Linked DNA regions of Homo sapiens: all the other regions are reported to be linked to region 3. The links are microRNA targets in miRTarBase. Many come from high-throughput screens and were not tested one by one. Region 3 holds a microRNA gene; each other region holds the end of a gene's coding sequence.

The links. Region 3 holds the annotated microRNA hsa-miR-6842-5p (UGGGGGUGGUCUCUAGCCAAGG, at 2,017-2,038, opposite strand). A microRNA usually pairs through its seed, bases 2 to 8, with sites in the 3' UTR of a target mRNA and lowers its output. Matches are read on the target gene's strand: a 7mer-m8 pairs with bases 2 to 8, a 7mer-A1 pairs with bases 2 to 7 and ends in A, and an 8mer does both.
Region 1: the mRNA of CXCL16 is a reported target of hsa-miR-6842-5p. Seed matches in the 3' UTR shown: 7mer-A1 at 2,309-2,315.
Region 2: the mRNA of KCNE3 is a reported target of hsa-miR-6842-5p. Seed matches in the 3' UTR shown: 7mer-A1 at 1,959-1,965.
Region 4: miRTarBase lists TFAP4 as a target of hsa-miR-6842-5p. Seed matches in the 3' UTR shown: 7mer-m8 at 2,106-2,112.

What each region holds. Positions count from the first base shown.
Region 1 is chr17:4,731,829-4,735,999 of GRCh38, forward strand. CXCL16 (C-X-C motif chemokine ligand 16) reads right to left here. Exons shown (of 6, transcript NM_001386809.1): 4 at 3,264-3,680; 5 at 2,755-2,824; 6 at 1,705-2,651. The coding sequence ends at 2,778. MED11 (mediator complex subunit 11) reads left to right here. Exons shown (of 3, transcript NM_001001683.4): 2 at 1-78; 3 at 1,222-1,779. The coding sequence ends at 1,359. Among named protein-coding and RNA genes, the nearest start is that of MED11, 2.5 kb to the left of the region's middle. RefSeq lists an enhancer at 1-255.
Region 2 is chr11:74,454,052-74,458,227 of GRCh38, reverse strand. KCNE3 (potassium voltage-gated channel subfamily E regulatory subunit 3) reads left to right here. Exons shown (of 3, transcript NM_005472.5): 3 at 625-3,387. The coding sequence starts at 665. The coding sequence ends at 976. Among named protein-coding and RNA genes, the nearest start is that of KCNE3, 11 kb to the left of the region's middle.
Region 3 is chr8:27,432,413-27,435,412 of GRCh38, reverse strand. It overlaps MIR6842 (microRNA 6842), which reads right to left and starts at 2,043; the gene lies at 1,979-2,043. It overlaps PTK2B (protein tyrosine kinase 2 beta), which reads right to left. Exons shown (of 31, transcript NM_173176.3): 11 at 1,861-1,978; 12 at 1,281-1,320; 13 at 854-900.
Region 4 is chr16:4,255,362-4,259,519 of GRCh38, forward strand. TFAP4 (transcription factor AP-4) reads right to left here. Exons shown (of 7, transcript NM_003223.3): 7 at 1,825-2,888. The coding sequence ends at 2,694. Among named protein-coding and RNA genes, the nearest start is that of LINC01569, 3.7 kb to the left of the region's middle.

The DNA of each region.
Region 1 (4,171 bases), not on the chromosome of region 3:
CGGCAGGCGGCGGCCTTCACCGCTTCAGTGCAACACGTGGAGGCGGAGCTGTCAGCTCAGATCCGCTACCTCACCCAGGTCGGTGTGTCTGGGGGGTTCTGCGAGCGAACCCCAGCTCTGGGTCAAAGCCTCAGGCTTGGGTGATCCAGGGTGGAGCATTAACTGGGCAGGACCAGACCTCCCCAGCCGGCCATCCAGAGCGGGTTTCTTCCTCTAAAAGGAAAGAATGGGCCGGGCGCAGTGGCTTGACAGAGTTCGAGACCAGCCTGGCCAACACGGTGAAACCTCGTCTCTACTAAAAATATAAAAATTAGGCCAGGCTCGGTGGCTCACTCCTGTAATCCCAGCACTTTGGGAGGCTGAGGCGGGTGGATCATCTGAGGTCAGGAGTTCGAGACCAGCCTGGCCAACATGGTGAAACTCCGTCTCTACTAAAAATACAAAAATTAGCTGGGCTGGTAGCGGGCACCTGTAATCCCAGCTACTTGGAAGGGTGAGGCAGGAGAATCGCTTGAACCCAGGAGGTGGAGGTTGCAGTGAGCCAAGATTGCAGCACTGCACTCCAGCCTGGGTGACAAAGCAAGACTGTCTCAAAAAAAAAAAAAGCCGGGCTTGGTGGTGAGTACCGGTAACCCCAGCTACTTGGAAGGCTGAGGCAGGAGAATCGCTTGAACCCAGGAGGCGGAGGTTGTTGTACTTAGCCGAGATCATGCCATTGCACTCCAGCCTGGGTAACAGAGCAAAAACTCTGTCTCAAAAAATAATAAATAATAAAATGAAAGAATTAAAGGTGGCCCTGCATACCTCACTGGGTAACATCACATGTGCCTAGCAGAAGATGTGTAAATAATGCTAGAACTACAGAACTTTGTCACTGGAAACTTGGCCTGACCTCCAGGCCACGAGGTCCCAAATCCTTATATCCTGAGAAGAGGGACAGGATTGAGAAGGTTCTGAAATCGTCGCAGGGACCACTACCATTACTAATTTTTACGGTGTGCCAGATACTCTGCATTACTTTATCTAATCCTCAACAACTCTAGGAAGTAGTTATTGTCACCCCCATTTTACAGACAAGATTAACATAAGTTAAATGATTTATTTACCCAGCTACCAGATGGCCTAACAAATTCAAACTCAGGGAAGAAATGAGACGAGACCTGATGCCTGGTTGGAGTTAGGGTAAAGGAGATGGTGCTCCATTGATAGTCTGTCTTGTAGGTGGCCACAGGGCAGCCCCATGAGGGCTCCAGCTACTCTTCGAGGAAGGACTGTCAGATGGCTCTGAAGCGAGTGGACTATGCCCGCCTCAAGCTCAGTGATGTGGCTCGAACCTGTGAGCAGATGCTGGAGAACTAGGCCAGGGAGATGGACCCAGAGCTGAGAGGGAGACCATCACCTGTGCCATGGGACAGAACCTGGGAACATGTAGGGTGGGGAGTATGAGCACCAACATACCCTGCTGGTCAAAGTACCCTAGGACAAAGGGGCAAATGGTGGGCATGGAAAAACTGAAGCCCGAGCCTGCCCACAGCTATGCTTTGGCCTCTCCAGCAGGGTGCTCCTGCTCTGCACTCCAGAAACACCCTGACAGGCTCAGAGAGGAGATGGAAACTGACATACCCAACCCACTTCCTCAAACACTTCATGCTGCTGCCCCAGCCTTCCCGCAGACTTGGCCTAATGAAAATACATACTTCTTCATTCGGAGAGACAAAACAAGAACTAGAGTTTTAATGATAATAAAAGCAATAATAATAAAAGCAATAACAATAAAAACAAGATCAGACTCTCACTGGGGTAGGCAAGGGACTGAGGAGGTGAAACCAACCCGTATGGTGTCCCAGCACGGCACCTGCTAAGGAGGGAGGGTGGGAAAGCCCAGGCCTTCGCTGCGGGTACAGGAGGATGCAGGAGAGGGCTGAGGTGGGGGAGGAACAACTGGTGTACTGGGAGAGAGATTTGGGACGAGGGGGAACCATCAGCAAAAAATGAAGCCAGGAATCACAGTAAGGGCGCAAGGGCTGAGGCCAGTTGTTTCCATAAAGAAGACTCAATCATTACAAAAATAATTTTTAGTAGTTAAAAAACACACATAGGGCCAGGCATGGTGGCTCACACCTTTAATCCCAGCACTTTGGGAGGCCTGGGTGGGCAGATCACCAGGTCAGGAGTTCGAGACCAGCCTGGTCAACATGGTGAAACCCCGTCTCTACTAAAAATACAAAAAATTAGCCGGGTGTGGTGGTGAGCACCTGTAGTCCCAGCTACTCAGGAGGAGGCAGGAGAATCGCTTGAACCTGGGAGATGGGGGTTGCAGTGAGCCGAGATCATGCCACTGCACTCCAGCCTGGATGACAGAGCGAGACTCCGTCTCAAAACAAAGCAAAGCAAAACAAAACAAAATACACATAGAATTTGTCCAAGTTATTATCACCCAGTGTGAAAAGCAGATTTTATAGTATAACCGTTTTTAAATGAGGGGCCTAAGAGAGGGCAGTGGCTGGTTAGTCCTATGTTAGATATTAACAAATACGTGTAGGCTGGATGTGGTAGGTGACGCCTATAATCCTCGCACCTTCAGAGGCCAAGGTGGGAGGATCACTTGACTCAGGAGTTCCATAACAGCCTGGGCAACATAGAGTCCGTCTCTAAAAAACAAAAAACAAAAACAAGTATGTATACAGTGCCTACCATGTTGTCAGGGGTCAGTCTCCTTTATTACACTTTTTGTAAGAATAAGCCACAGTTTACCCTCACAAGCTTCCATTCTTGGCTCAGGTATTAGAGTCAGGTGCCACAGGTATATAATGAACCGGCAGATCTGGAAAGGATAAAGAAATTGAGAGATGAGCTCTGAGATCAAGGACAGTGTTTGGGGGATGATAGCTTGAACTAGGGAATCAGATGAAGACATCAACACTATGACCTGGCCCACAGTAGGTGCTCAGTGAAAATTTGTGAATTGAATGACTGGCCCTCACCTCCCTCCACAGCTTCATCTCCCACTAGCTTGCTCTAGCCATCTTCTCCATGATGTTGCTCCAAGCACTAGTCCTTGTGCCTGTGGTGGCTTCCTTCCCTCTCCACTGTCTACAGTCCCCGACTGACTGTCCTCAGAGGGCCCAGAGTCAACCTTGTGCAGACAACCTTGATACTTGTGTGCCAAGGCCAGGTTTCCAGCCACCTGAGAGCCACTGGGTCAGGATGCCTGTCAGGAAGGCTCTGGGTCCCTGGGGGGAGGGTTCAAAGGTCCAGTTTACCTGGAGAGGACTGCGGTGACTGCCCCCTCCTCCTCTTGCACAGCACATAGGAAAGGGCTGCGGTGAGGATGAAGATGATGGCCAGGAGGCACAGGACTGGCACTGTGGCTGATGTCCTGGCTGTGGGACCAGCATTTTTTTCCGGCTGCTTCTGGTTCTCCCCAGCCTCAGGCCCAGCTGCCAGACTGTGGCCCGCAGTGTGAATGGTGGTTTCATTGGGACGAGTGAGCTCTTTGTCCGAGGACAGTGATCCTACTGGGAGGGTGGGGCGCTGAGTGGACTGCAAGGTGGACAGGAGCATCTGGGCAGGGGTGTGGATATCTGAAGATGCCCCCTCTGAGGCCTGAGAAATTGGGGGGCTGGTAGGAAGTAAATGCTTCTGGTGGGCCACAATCCCCGAGTAAGCATGTCCACATTCTGGAAAGGAAAGAAATGAGGAATCAGGACTATCAGGAGACAAGGTGAAAAAGCAGATAGAGGTGTAGGGGAGAAAAAGTAATATCTTTTCCTCACCCATCGCAAGGGTCAAGGCTGATACCCCTATAAATAAAAAACATTAACAAGAGAAAAGCCTAACATTTATTTAATCACAGTTTTACATGACATAGGAACCTTCAGAAACAAAGACCCGAGAAAAGTGCATTTTTATGCTTAGGCTTGCTGTGAAGAATGGACAGCTGTATAGACGTATGATTGGATTGGCCGGGCGCGGTGGTTCACGCCTGTAATCCCAGCACTTTGGGAGGCTGAGGTGGGTGGATCACCTGAGGTCGGGAGTTCGAGACCAGTCTGACCAACATGGAGAAACCCAGTCTCTACTAAAAATACAAAATTAGCCAGGCATGGTGTCATGTGCCTGTAATCCCAGCTACATGGGAGGCTGAGGCAGAATCGCCTGAACCCAGGAG
Region 2 (4,176 bases), not on the chromosome of region 3:
AAGGCTTTGTTGTACAATTATTTATTGAGTACTTACTTATTGAATGCTGTCATAAGTGATTGCATATAGCAGTGAGTAAAACAAATATAGGCCCTGCCCTTATTGTTTAGTGTATGGTCTAATGGAGAAGACAAACATGTAATCAAGCAGCTAGAATAAGCTATTGTATTAGTCCATTTTCATACTGCCATGAAGAAATACCTGAGCCTGGGTAGTTTATAAAGAAAAAGAAGTTTAATGGACTCACAGTTCCACACGGCTGGGTAGGCCTCACAATCACGGCAGAAGGCAAAGGAGGAGCAAAGGCACATCTTAAACAGTGGCAGGCAAGAGAGCAGGTGCAGGGGAACTGCCCTTTCTAAACCATCAGATCTCGTGAGACTTATTCACTATCATGAGAACAGCATGGGAAAAACCCACCCCCATGATTCAGTTACCTCCTACTGGGTCCCTCCCATGACACATGGGGATTATGGGAGCTATGATTCCAGATGAGATTTGGGTGGGGACACAGCCAAACCATATCAGCCATGATGCTAAGATTTTACCTGGGATCTGAAGGGAGGAGGTCATTTGAGCTGCAGGTGACAGAGCCATCCCCTCTCTCTTTTCTTTTGCCACCAGAGCTTCTACCGAGTCTTCCCCCACCTCAATCCCTGTTGCTATGGAGACTACCAATGGAACGGAGACCTGGTATGAGAGCCTGCATGCCGTGCTGAAGGCTCTAAATGCCACTCTTCACAGCAATTTGCTCTGCCGGCCAGGGCCAGGGCTGGGGCCAGACAACCAGACTGAAGAGAGGCGGGCCAGCCTACCTGGCCGTGATGACAACTCCTACATGTACATTCTCTTTGTCATGTTTCTATTTGCTGTAACTGTGGGCAGCCTCATCCTGGGATACACCCGCTCCCGCAAAGTGGACAAGCGTAGTGACCCCTATCATGTGTATATCAAGAACCGTGTGTCTATGATCTAACACGAGAGGGCTGGGACGGTGGAAGACCAAGACACCTGGGGATTGCGTCTGGGGCCTCCAGAACTCTGCTGTGGACTGCATCAGGTCTCAGTGTCCCTATCTGTAAGATCAACAAGAAACACGGTTAAGGGAGGTCGTCACTGGGGTGGGAGAAGAGGGGCTGGTAGACCGAAGCCTTGTGCATAAGGATTTTTTCCCAGGAAAAGATAGACTTTATAAACAGTGGGAGCCCATGAACAAACATATAAAAGTAGCAACAGATAATGACCAATAACTGGTTCAGTGGCTGGAGTATTAGGGGCCTGGGGATTGGAGAACGGAGAAGAAGTTGTAGCAGAGGGAAATGAGACAGGAAGATGCTCTGGGGACACATTTTTTATGTGTTATCTTCAGCCATGAGAAGCAGTGATGACTATCCCATATCACAGATATGATTTACCACCACCACCCTGCCCCCGCTCCCGTGAAGAAAGCAGGGCAAGTGCTGTGCTGCCCATTTGGGCCTGCATAGTGCCATGATTGGAACCCAGGAACTCTGGTCTCCTTGCCTAGTGCTTTTCAAAACTCTGTGCTACACAGGAGTGGATCCAGGCCTGAAGGTCATACAATTCTGGGGACTCTCTTTAAGAAAAAGAATTCTAAAATATCTTACTTTTGCAAACATTATGAAAATATACTGCCACATTAATATGTTGCTAGGGCCCCTGCTAGGACCTTAAGAAGGAGCTCATGTGAGTCAGGACCCTGAATGTTAGGCCTCGTTAGCTCTATGGTTCATATGCTTCTTGAACCAAGTCACAGGGCACTTCCCAGCCACATTGCCAGGCAACAGGACTAAACTACCTCCAAAGCAAGCAGTCTTTTCAGTTTTGACTGAGTGATGTGAGAAACTTCTTTTCTTTTCTTTTCTTTTTTTTTTTTTGAGACAGTCTCCCTATGTCACCCAGGCTGTGGTGCAGCAACCCAATCTTGGCTCACTGCAACCCCCACCTCCCGGGTTCAAGCAATTATCCTGCCTCAGCCACCTGAGTAGCTGGGATTACAGGTTCCTGTCACCACACCCAGTTAATTTATATATATATATATATATATATATTTAAGTAGAGACAGGGTTTCACATGTTGCCCAGGCTGGTCTCGAACTCCTGTCCTCAAGTTATCTGCCCATTTTGGTCTCCCAAAGTGCTGGGATTACAAGTGTAAGCCACCACGACTATCTGAGAGAAGTTTTCTGATGTCATGTTGAATCTGCTTCTAAAAGACTGATACTGCCAAGGTGGGCGGATCACCTGAGGTCAGGAGTTCGAGACCAGCCTGGCCAACATGGTGAAACCCCATCTACTAAAAAAATACAAAAATTAGCCAGACCTGGTGGCGGGTGCCCGTATTCCCAGCTACTTGGGAGGCTGAGGCAGGAGAATTGTTTGAACCCGGGAGGTGGAGGTTGCAGTAAGCCAAGATCACGCCACTGCACTCCAGCCTGGGTGACAGAGCAAGGCTCTGTCTCAAAAAAAAACAAAAACAAAAACAAAAAAGACTGATATCGCACCTAAATTATTATTATATTAAAAGAAGCAGAGTATGAGAGACAGGTACATGGTCCAGTAGGAAGAGAAGCAGCCCTGATTCTACCACTTAAGGTGATGTATGATCTTAGGCTGGACACTTCTCTCCCTCATCCGTTTTCCTCTTCAACATAATGAAATAGACTTGAAAGTCTCTAAGGCTCTATCAGTTCTGACATTCTAGGCTTCATATACATTAAGTTGAGCCATATGTAATCACTGTGTTTGTAGGTTAGAAACAGCTGAGTATCGTAGTTTCATATATGGTTCCAGCTAATACATGCAATGTGGCTGGTGAACACTTCTGAATTCAGAAACTATCCCAGATCTCAGCTAGAACCATCCACTGTTCTGTTTGTCCAGTTTCAACTTAAGGGATCTCCATGCGGTCCCTGGAAGTACCCATTGAAACATGCGTATTTGTGTATAGCAGAACTCTGAAATAATATTCTGACAGCAGTTATCTCTGAGGAATTGGGTTATAGGTGATTTTCCCTTTCCGCATGATAAATTTATGTAATATTTGACTGACTTGACCGTAAGTATGTTACTTGTATAATAAAAGGAAAAAAGGTACTTCTATTTTGAAAAAATAAAAATAAAAGCCTTTGGGTTCTTGAATGGAGGATCATGGAACACATTTGCTGCCATATGCAGTTATGTTGATGCTCTGCAAACCTGTGCTGAGCCCTGTTGCTCAAGCCCTTCCTCATCTCTTCTTGAGGGAGAAGGTGGAGACTTCCTTAAGGAGATGTGACATATGGGAAGACAACAGATTCAGAAATTTACGTGGATAGGACTTTAGACACCACCCAGCCCAAACTTCCAAATAAAATATGGAACGCAATTGGGTGTAAGAATGAATGGTTAGGTGATGAATGCCATAAGGATTTTGAGAAATGAAATTGACTAGGAGGAGTCAGACACTTGAATTCATTTAGCTTTTAAAACCCTCATAACAACCCTATGTAGTAAGTAGGTATTCCTTACAAGTATTTCCACAGAGGTGTTTCTGCTGTAGCACCTTCATGTACCTTCAGCCCAGTTTAGGTCCCATGGTAGAACTTGAGAGAGGTAGAACTTGAACTGGGCTTTGAAAGCTAGGACAGAGCTAAATGGGCAGAGTGAATGAAGGGATCAAGATCAGGGAAGCTTGGAGGCAGATGTTGGGGAGCTCCCTCCTGGAGAGGGCAGGTAGGCTGGGGAGACAGCAGGAAGCAGGCCTCCTGGGGCTACTCCATGACTTCAGTGTCCCCAGTGGAGAAGGCTCCCCTTCACACAGTCCTCACACTCCATGGGCATAATCATAAAATAATACAAATTATTTTGGTTGTGAGTTACAGGCACCTGATGTATATTAGCATAAGTACAAAAGGGAATTTCTGAGGTGTATGGGGTAGCTCAAAGTTTAAAGAAGGAGCTGCAGACACCAGGGCAACTCCAGGGATCTCGGGGCCTGGAACAACGGATCTGTCTGAATTCACAAACTAAGAACTTGGTATGTTTCCTTACACACACCCAGGTTGGACTAAATAAAAATCTAGGATTTGAAGGGAGTAAAATTTAAACATTCTAATATCCTATGGTGGCCAGGCGCAGTGGCTCACGCCTGTAATCCCAACACTTTGGGAGGCTG
Region 3 (3,000 bases):
TTAAGGACTGGATGTTTGTGTACCTCCCAAATTCCTTTGTTGAAGCCCTAATTCCCAATGCGATGGGATTAGGAGGTGGGGCCTTTGGGAGGTGGTGCAGTCCTGAGCGTGGAGCCCCCATAATGGGATCTGTGCTCATGTACACAGAAGAAGAGAGGCCAGAACTCTCTGTTCATCACGTGAGCCCACAGTGAAAGGATAGCTATCTGCAAATGAGGATGAAAGCCCTCACCAGATGCAGACTCAGCCAGCACCTTGATCTTGGACTTCCAGCCTCTAGAACTGTGAGCAATAAAGTATCTGGTTTTAAGCCACCCAGTCTATAGTATTTTGTTATGGCAGCCCAAGCTGCTTAAGCCATGTACTAAGTACTCAATACACACTAGCGATTACTACTCATGATTTTTTTTTTTTGAGATGGAGTCTTGCTGGGTTGACAGGCTGGAGTGCAGTGGTGCCATCTCAGCTCACTGCAACCTCCGCCTTCCAGGTTCAAGCTATTTTCCTGCCTCAGCCTCCCAAGTAGCTGGGACTACAGGCACATGCCACCATGCCCATCCAATTTTTGTATTTTTAGTAGAAATGGGGTGTCACCATGTTGGTCAGGATGGTCTTGATTTCTTGACCTCATGATCCATCCACTTTGGCCTCCCAAAGTGCTGGGATTACAGGCATGAGCCACTGCACCCAGCCATAATTCACGATATTTTAAAGCCATCACTGAGAAGTTATGGGAGAGGATCATTTTTCTGTCACTTGGAGGAAACCCTCGGCAATGTCACGAGAGCAAGCAGTGGGGAGCAAGCAGACGGGAGGCAACTGGAGCAGGTGGAGGATGCAGCGGGCAGCTCACCTATGCTGCAGCTCTCTGAGAGGTGGGACCGCCGGGCCTCCAGGTTTCTGTAGGAGGTGAGAGAGCAGAAGCCAGGTGAGCTCAGAGGCCGGTAATGTTCCCCTGGGCAGCCTCGGCCCGCCCTCTCCTCCTGCCCCCTGTGGAGAAGTAGTCTGTCCAAATTAGCAATGACCTGGGAGCACAGCCCAGGCTGCTGGGGGCTGGAGTTGGGGGACAGCAGCAACCCCCCAGGATAACACCAGGTGGCATGAAGGCATAGGAATATTCCTGCAGGTATTTATTGGGAGGGAAAGATCATCTTTTTTCAGGGTTCTCCTGGGCCTGAAAGCCAGAAACTATGGAGGTGGGGACTCCCAGTTTATTCTTATTCCTCTCAGCAGCACAGGCTGAGCTCAGGGCCCTGTCCTCTGCACCCCATTGTACTCACAGCATGGGGATCTGGGGCAGGCTGTTCCGCTTCTCACCATCTAGGAAGAGAGGAGGAAGGAGGAGGTTGGAGCTGGGGACACAGGGACCTGGATGGGTGACTGACCTCCTCACTATTCCTACAAGGGACTCTCCTCCCATCCCAGCCCCTAATTCCATTCTCTCCTAGCCTGGGAGCTAGTGAGGCCTTGGGCCAGAAGTGGAATCCTCCTTGGAGGCTGCCTCAGGCCAGATTTCACGTGCTCCAGCTGTGACCCCTGCTTCCTGAATCTGACCCAAGATGGAGACACACACAGGCGGGACCAGCCTTCTACTAGCAATGGCTTTGAGCTTGCTGGGGCTAAAACGCCTCTCCTCCAGAAGCTGCCTCTATGTGGACCTTGATTAGCAGGGCTGTGGGTAGGTGGACCGGCCAGGGCTTAAAGCCTAAGATGGGCCCACTGGAAGCTTCCCGCTGGGCTGTGGGGGAAGAATCCTCATTCACTTATCCATCAGTGGCTTAGCTTCTGCCACTCCGCCTCTGGGGACTCGGGTGTGCTGCCACCCGTGGTCCAGCCACTTTACCTTTAAATGGAACCCACCTTTCCTAGGATGGATGATGAGAGAGCCTTGGTGCTCACCCTGCAGCCGGCAGTAGCCGTCTATGAGGTCAGCCATGTTCTCAGCCTCTGCTAGGGATGAGGTTTTGATGGACAAGGCCTGCGGAGCAGAGACCAGCCAAGGGTGAGACCCCAGAGCCTTGGCTAGAGACCACCCCCAGGGCTGGAGAAGAGATGGCAGGACCCCTGCCACAACCCTTGCCTGGATGCCAATGCTGTCTGCACCTCTCCTGGGGCCCTGCCCTGGAGTCCAGACTGCACTCTGTCACCCCTTTCACCTGTACGCCCATGCTCTCCAAAGGCCAGTCCCAGGCCTCACTTATTTTGGCCTCTGAGCACATAGCACGATGCCTGGTACCTAGTAGGTGCTCAATAAATAGAAGCAGAAACTGAGAAAATGGAAGAGGGGGCTGGGCACAGTGGCTCATGCCTATAATCCCAGCACTTTAGGAGGCCGAGGCAGGCAGATCACCTGAGGTCAGGAGTTTGAGACCAGCCTGGCCAACATGGTGAAACCCTGTGTCTACTAAAAGTACAAAAATTAGTTGGGCCTTGTGGCATGCACCTGTAGTCCCAGCTACTCAGGAGGCTGAGGCAGGAGAATCTCTTGAACTGTGGAGGTGGAGGTTACAGTGAGCTGAGATTGCACCACTGCACTGTAGCCTGGGTGACAGAGTGAGACTTTGTCTAAAAAAAAGAAAGAAAGAAAGAAAGAGGAAGGGGAGGCAATGGGGCAGGGCACAGATGGGTGAAAGGAGAGAGAGATGCAGCCTGAGGTCTCTCTGGGTGTTTTACTGTAAAAAACAAACAAACAAACAAACAAAAAAACCCATGTTTTTGAGGTCTTGATGTCCGCATCCTTGTTCTCTTGGTATAACTTAGGCCTGTGATTTATACCTGATTTCTGGTCACCTTGAACATTCCACTACCTGAAAACCTTCCCAATTTCTTCTCCTGACATTAAAAAAATTGTTTCCCGAATTTTCCTACAATTTATCATCATCCTGGTACCTTTTGTCTAAGAACTTGGTGCAGTTTTCTTAACACGATCCCCAAAGCCAGGAAGCTCCTGGCTTCCTGTGTGTCACAGACTTTTGGTCTGAGCAAGAGCTCCCAATCTGC
Region 4 (4,158 bases), not on the chromosome of region 3:
AATTTTTTAAAAAAGATATTAAAACCAGAAAGCAGGTGGTTGCTGGAGACTGGGAGGAGGGGGAAGGAGTGACTGCTTCATGGAGTCATTTTGGAGTGACGGACATGTTTTGGAACCAGGTAGGCTGTGTAACACTGTGAATGTATGAAGTGCCATTGAATTGTTCACTGTAAAATTCCAAGAAAACCTGCAGACTCCTGCCTTTCTGTGAAGAGTTCGTGTCCACTGTCATCGTGGGGTGAGCTGTGATTCTGCCTTCTGCTCTGGCCTCAGTCCCCAAGCACCCAGCACTGTGAGCATGAGGCATAGGAGGGGACCACGGTGTAAATCGATCTCTGGTCACGGAAGAGTGAAGGATTTAAAGGACCATGGCCTAGCCTGGGCAACATGGCAAAACCCTGCCTCTACAATAAAATATAAAAAAGTCAGCCGGGCCCAGGCCAGGCACGGTGGCTCACACCTGTAATCCCAGGACTTTGGGAGGCCAAGGTGGGTGGATCACCTGAGGTCAGGAGTTCAAGACCAGCCTGGCCAACATGGTGAAACCCCATCTCTACTAACAATACAAAAATTAGCTGGGCATGATGGTGGGTGCCTGTAGTCCCAGCTACTCAGGAGGTTGAGGCAGGAGAATCGCTTGAACCTGTGAGGCAGAGGTTCCAGTGAGCCAAGATCGTGCCATTGCATTCCAGCCTGGGTGACACAGCAAGACTCCATCTCAAAAAAAAAAAAAAAAAAAAAAATTAGCCAGGCTTTGTGGTACAGGCCTGTAGTCCTAGCTACTAGGGAGGCTGAGGTGGGAGGATCACTTGAGACCAGGAGGTCAAGGATGCAGTGAACTGTGATCAAAACACTGCACTGCAGCCTGGGCGACAGAGCAGGACCCCATCTCACACCAAAAAATAATAATAAAAATTTAAAAATAGCCAGGCATGGTGGCTCATCCCTTTAATCCCAGAACTTTGGGAGGCCGAGGTAGGCGGATCACTTGAGGTCAGGAGTTCAAGACCAGCCTGGTCAACATGGTGAAACCCTGTCTCTACTAAAAATACAAAAATTAGCTGGGCATGGTGGTGCACTCCCGTAGTCCCAGCTACTTGAGAGGCTGAGGCAAGAAGATTGCTTGAACCCAGGAGATAGAGGATGCAGTGAGCCGAGATCACGCCACTGCACTCCAGACTGGGAGACAGAGACTCTGTCTCGAAATAAAGGACCATGCCAATCCCCAATAGGATGCAATGTCCTTGTGCCGTTATTATCGCCAATTTTTAGAAGAAGAAATTGAGGCTCAGAGGAAGCGGTTTGTCAGAGGGGGAACTGACCTCTGGCAGACCAATTCCAGGATCTTAGCACTTAAACACCACACCACGGGGGGGCAGGGGGGTGCTGGGGGGGTGCGGTTGGAGGGGGTGGGGTTCCCCTCCTAGGGGAGGAGAGGATGAGGCTCAGAGAAGTTACAGAAGCCCAGGAAGTGGCAAAACCTAGGGATTAACCAAAGCGTAGGGACCAAGCAGGGCCCCTGAACACCTGTGTCCTTTCCCAGGTTTTCGGAATCGGTGGCTTGGTTGTCCTTCTCTCCTTGCCGCCCACCAAAGAGCCACTCCCCAGCCTCAACACCATCTTCCATCTTTACAGAATACCCAGGGTCATCCCAGGGAAACTGAGGACCCCAATTTTTCATCGCAACACCACACACAAGCTGAGGGAGTAACTGTGCTCACACACACCCAGTCCGCTTTGGGGGGCCCAAGGAGCCCCCCTACTCTAGATGGGGTAGCCCTGCCCTGGTCTTCAGGCCAGCCCACACCCAGGAGACTCAGAATCTAAAAAACAAAGTACAAACTTTATTTTGTTTCTTTACAAAGGCACGGTGGCCTCTTGGTTTTTTTCTCCCCACTTTCTTAACAAAATATAATAGCTTCTCCTTGAACACGAAGACCTCAAAATTGTAAAAAAAAAAAAAAAAGAAAGAAAAAAAAGAAAAACAAAACAAAAACAGAAAGCAAACCAAAAAGAAATAAAAAACCAACAACAAACAAAACAAAAAGAGAGAGACAGACATTTTTGGGGTGGAAGATGAGACCTGGAGGCAGAGGTGGGGGCTGGGGGGTGGGAGAGTGGCGAATTCTAGTGCCGAGATGGGGAAGGGGGAGGGGGGCACAGCAGCAGCAAACCCCAACCAAGAAGCAACGGAGACCTCCGGGCCCCCAGAATGCCCCAGCCTAGTCTTACCCCCAACCATGTAAGTGCTTAAAGGAGAAAGAAGAAAACCCAAAAAGAGGAAGGAAAGGGGATTGAAGGCTGACAATCCCAGGCTGGCTCTGGGCAGGGAAGAAATAACCTGGGGTTTTGTTTAATTTTCCCTGTTCTTAAAAAACATATTTAAAGGAAAAAATGCTTTTTGGCAGAGAGAGGCCAGGCATCTCCGTGTCAGCTTCCTCCAGCCCCCGGGGCCGAGGCCCCGCCCTGGGGTGCCGATGCTCCCACACGCTCTGCGACACCCCAGCCCCGGGACCTCGGGTTGAGTGGCTTCGTTCAAAGGTCGATTTACAGTATTGAAAAAGAGGTCATAAAAGAGACCCAAATGACATCGTAATTTTGTAAAAATTTCTCACTCATTCGCCCATGTCTCTCCCTGTGGCTGCCCCGGCTCCCTCCAGCCCCCAGAAGGGAGAGGAGGGCTGGGGGGGTAGTCAGGGAAGCTCCCCGTCCCCCGACGGCTCCTCCCGGCTCTGGTCCATGGCGTCACTGTCTGAGGCCTCGGAGTCGGAGGCGGTGTCAGAGGTGGGGGCCTCCGGGCAGCTGCGGACAGGCTTCACGATGACAGCTCGCCGCTGCTCCTCCTCCAGCTCCTGCTTTTCCTGGGTGCCCTCGATGTGCTGGATTGCCTGGACAGGGACGAACCACTGAGAAGGCTCGGCCGGGGATACATGGCCAGCCAGGAGACAGTGGGGGCTCTCAGCCAGCCACTGTCACCCCCAAAACACATAGCCCAGAAAAAAGCCTGGCAAAGCAGCAGGGGAGGCCCGCTAGAGTACAGGAAAAACAAACTCCTTTTACTTTTTTTTTGGAGACAAGCTCTCGCTATATCACCCAGGCTAGAGTGCAGTGGCATGATCATAGCTTACTGCAGTCAGACTCCTGGGCTCCAGCGATCCTCCTACTGCTCCCTCCCTAGTAGCTGGAACCACAGGGGTGCGCCACCATCCCCAGCTAACTTCTGTATTTTTGGTAGAGACGAGGGGGTTCTTGCTATGTTGCCCAAGCTGATCTCGAACTCCTGACCTCAGGCAATCTTCCTGCCTCAACCTCCAAAAGTCCCGGGATTACAGGCATAAGCCACCACGCCTGACCCAGGAACAAACTTTCAAAACCCCTCTGTTAAGTTGAAAAATCCATTCTGGGAAGATGACAGTCCCAGTGCTGCTTAGAAATTATATTATATGTATCAGCCAGGCGCAGTGGCTCACGCCTGTAATCCCAACACTTTGGGAGGCCAAGACGGGAGGATCACCTGACGTCAGGAGTTCGAGACCAGCCCCTCAACAGAGGCCAGAAGCCTACTAAAAATACAAAATTTGCCAGGCGTGGTGGCACATGCCTATAATCCCAGCTACTTGGGAGGCTGAGGCAGGAGAATCACTTGAACCTGGGAGGAGGAGGTTGCGATGAGCTGAGATAGCACCATTGCACTCCAGCCTGGGCAATAAGAGCGAAACTCTATCTCAAAAAAAAAGAAAAAAAAAGAAATAATATGGACCTTTCATATGTTTTTGTTTGTTTGTTTTTTGAGAAAGAGTCTCACCGTGTCACCCAGGCTGGAGTTCAGTGGTGCAATCTCAGCTCACTGCAACTTCCACCTCCCATGTTCAAGCGATTCTCCTGCCTCAGCCTCCCGAATAGCTGGGATTACAGGCGTGCACCACCACGTCAGGCTAATTTTTGTATTTTTAATAGAGATGGGGTTTTCACCATGTTGGCCAGGCTGGTCTCGAACTCCTGACCTCAAGTGATCCACCCACTTTGGCCTCCCAAAGTGCTGGGATTGCAGGTGTGAGCCACCACACCCGGCCATATGTTTATGTATTTTAAAGCTTGCCTATTAACTTATTAAAGGCGTTTGTTATTAATTGTATTACACAATTTGCAAAGTTTATG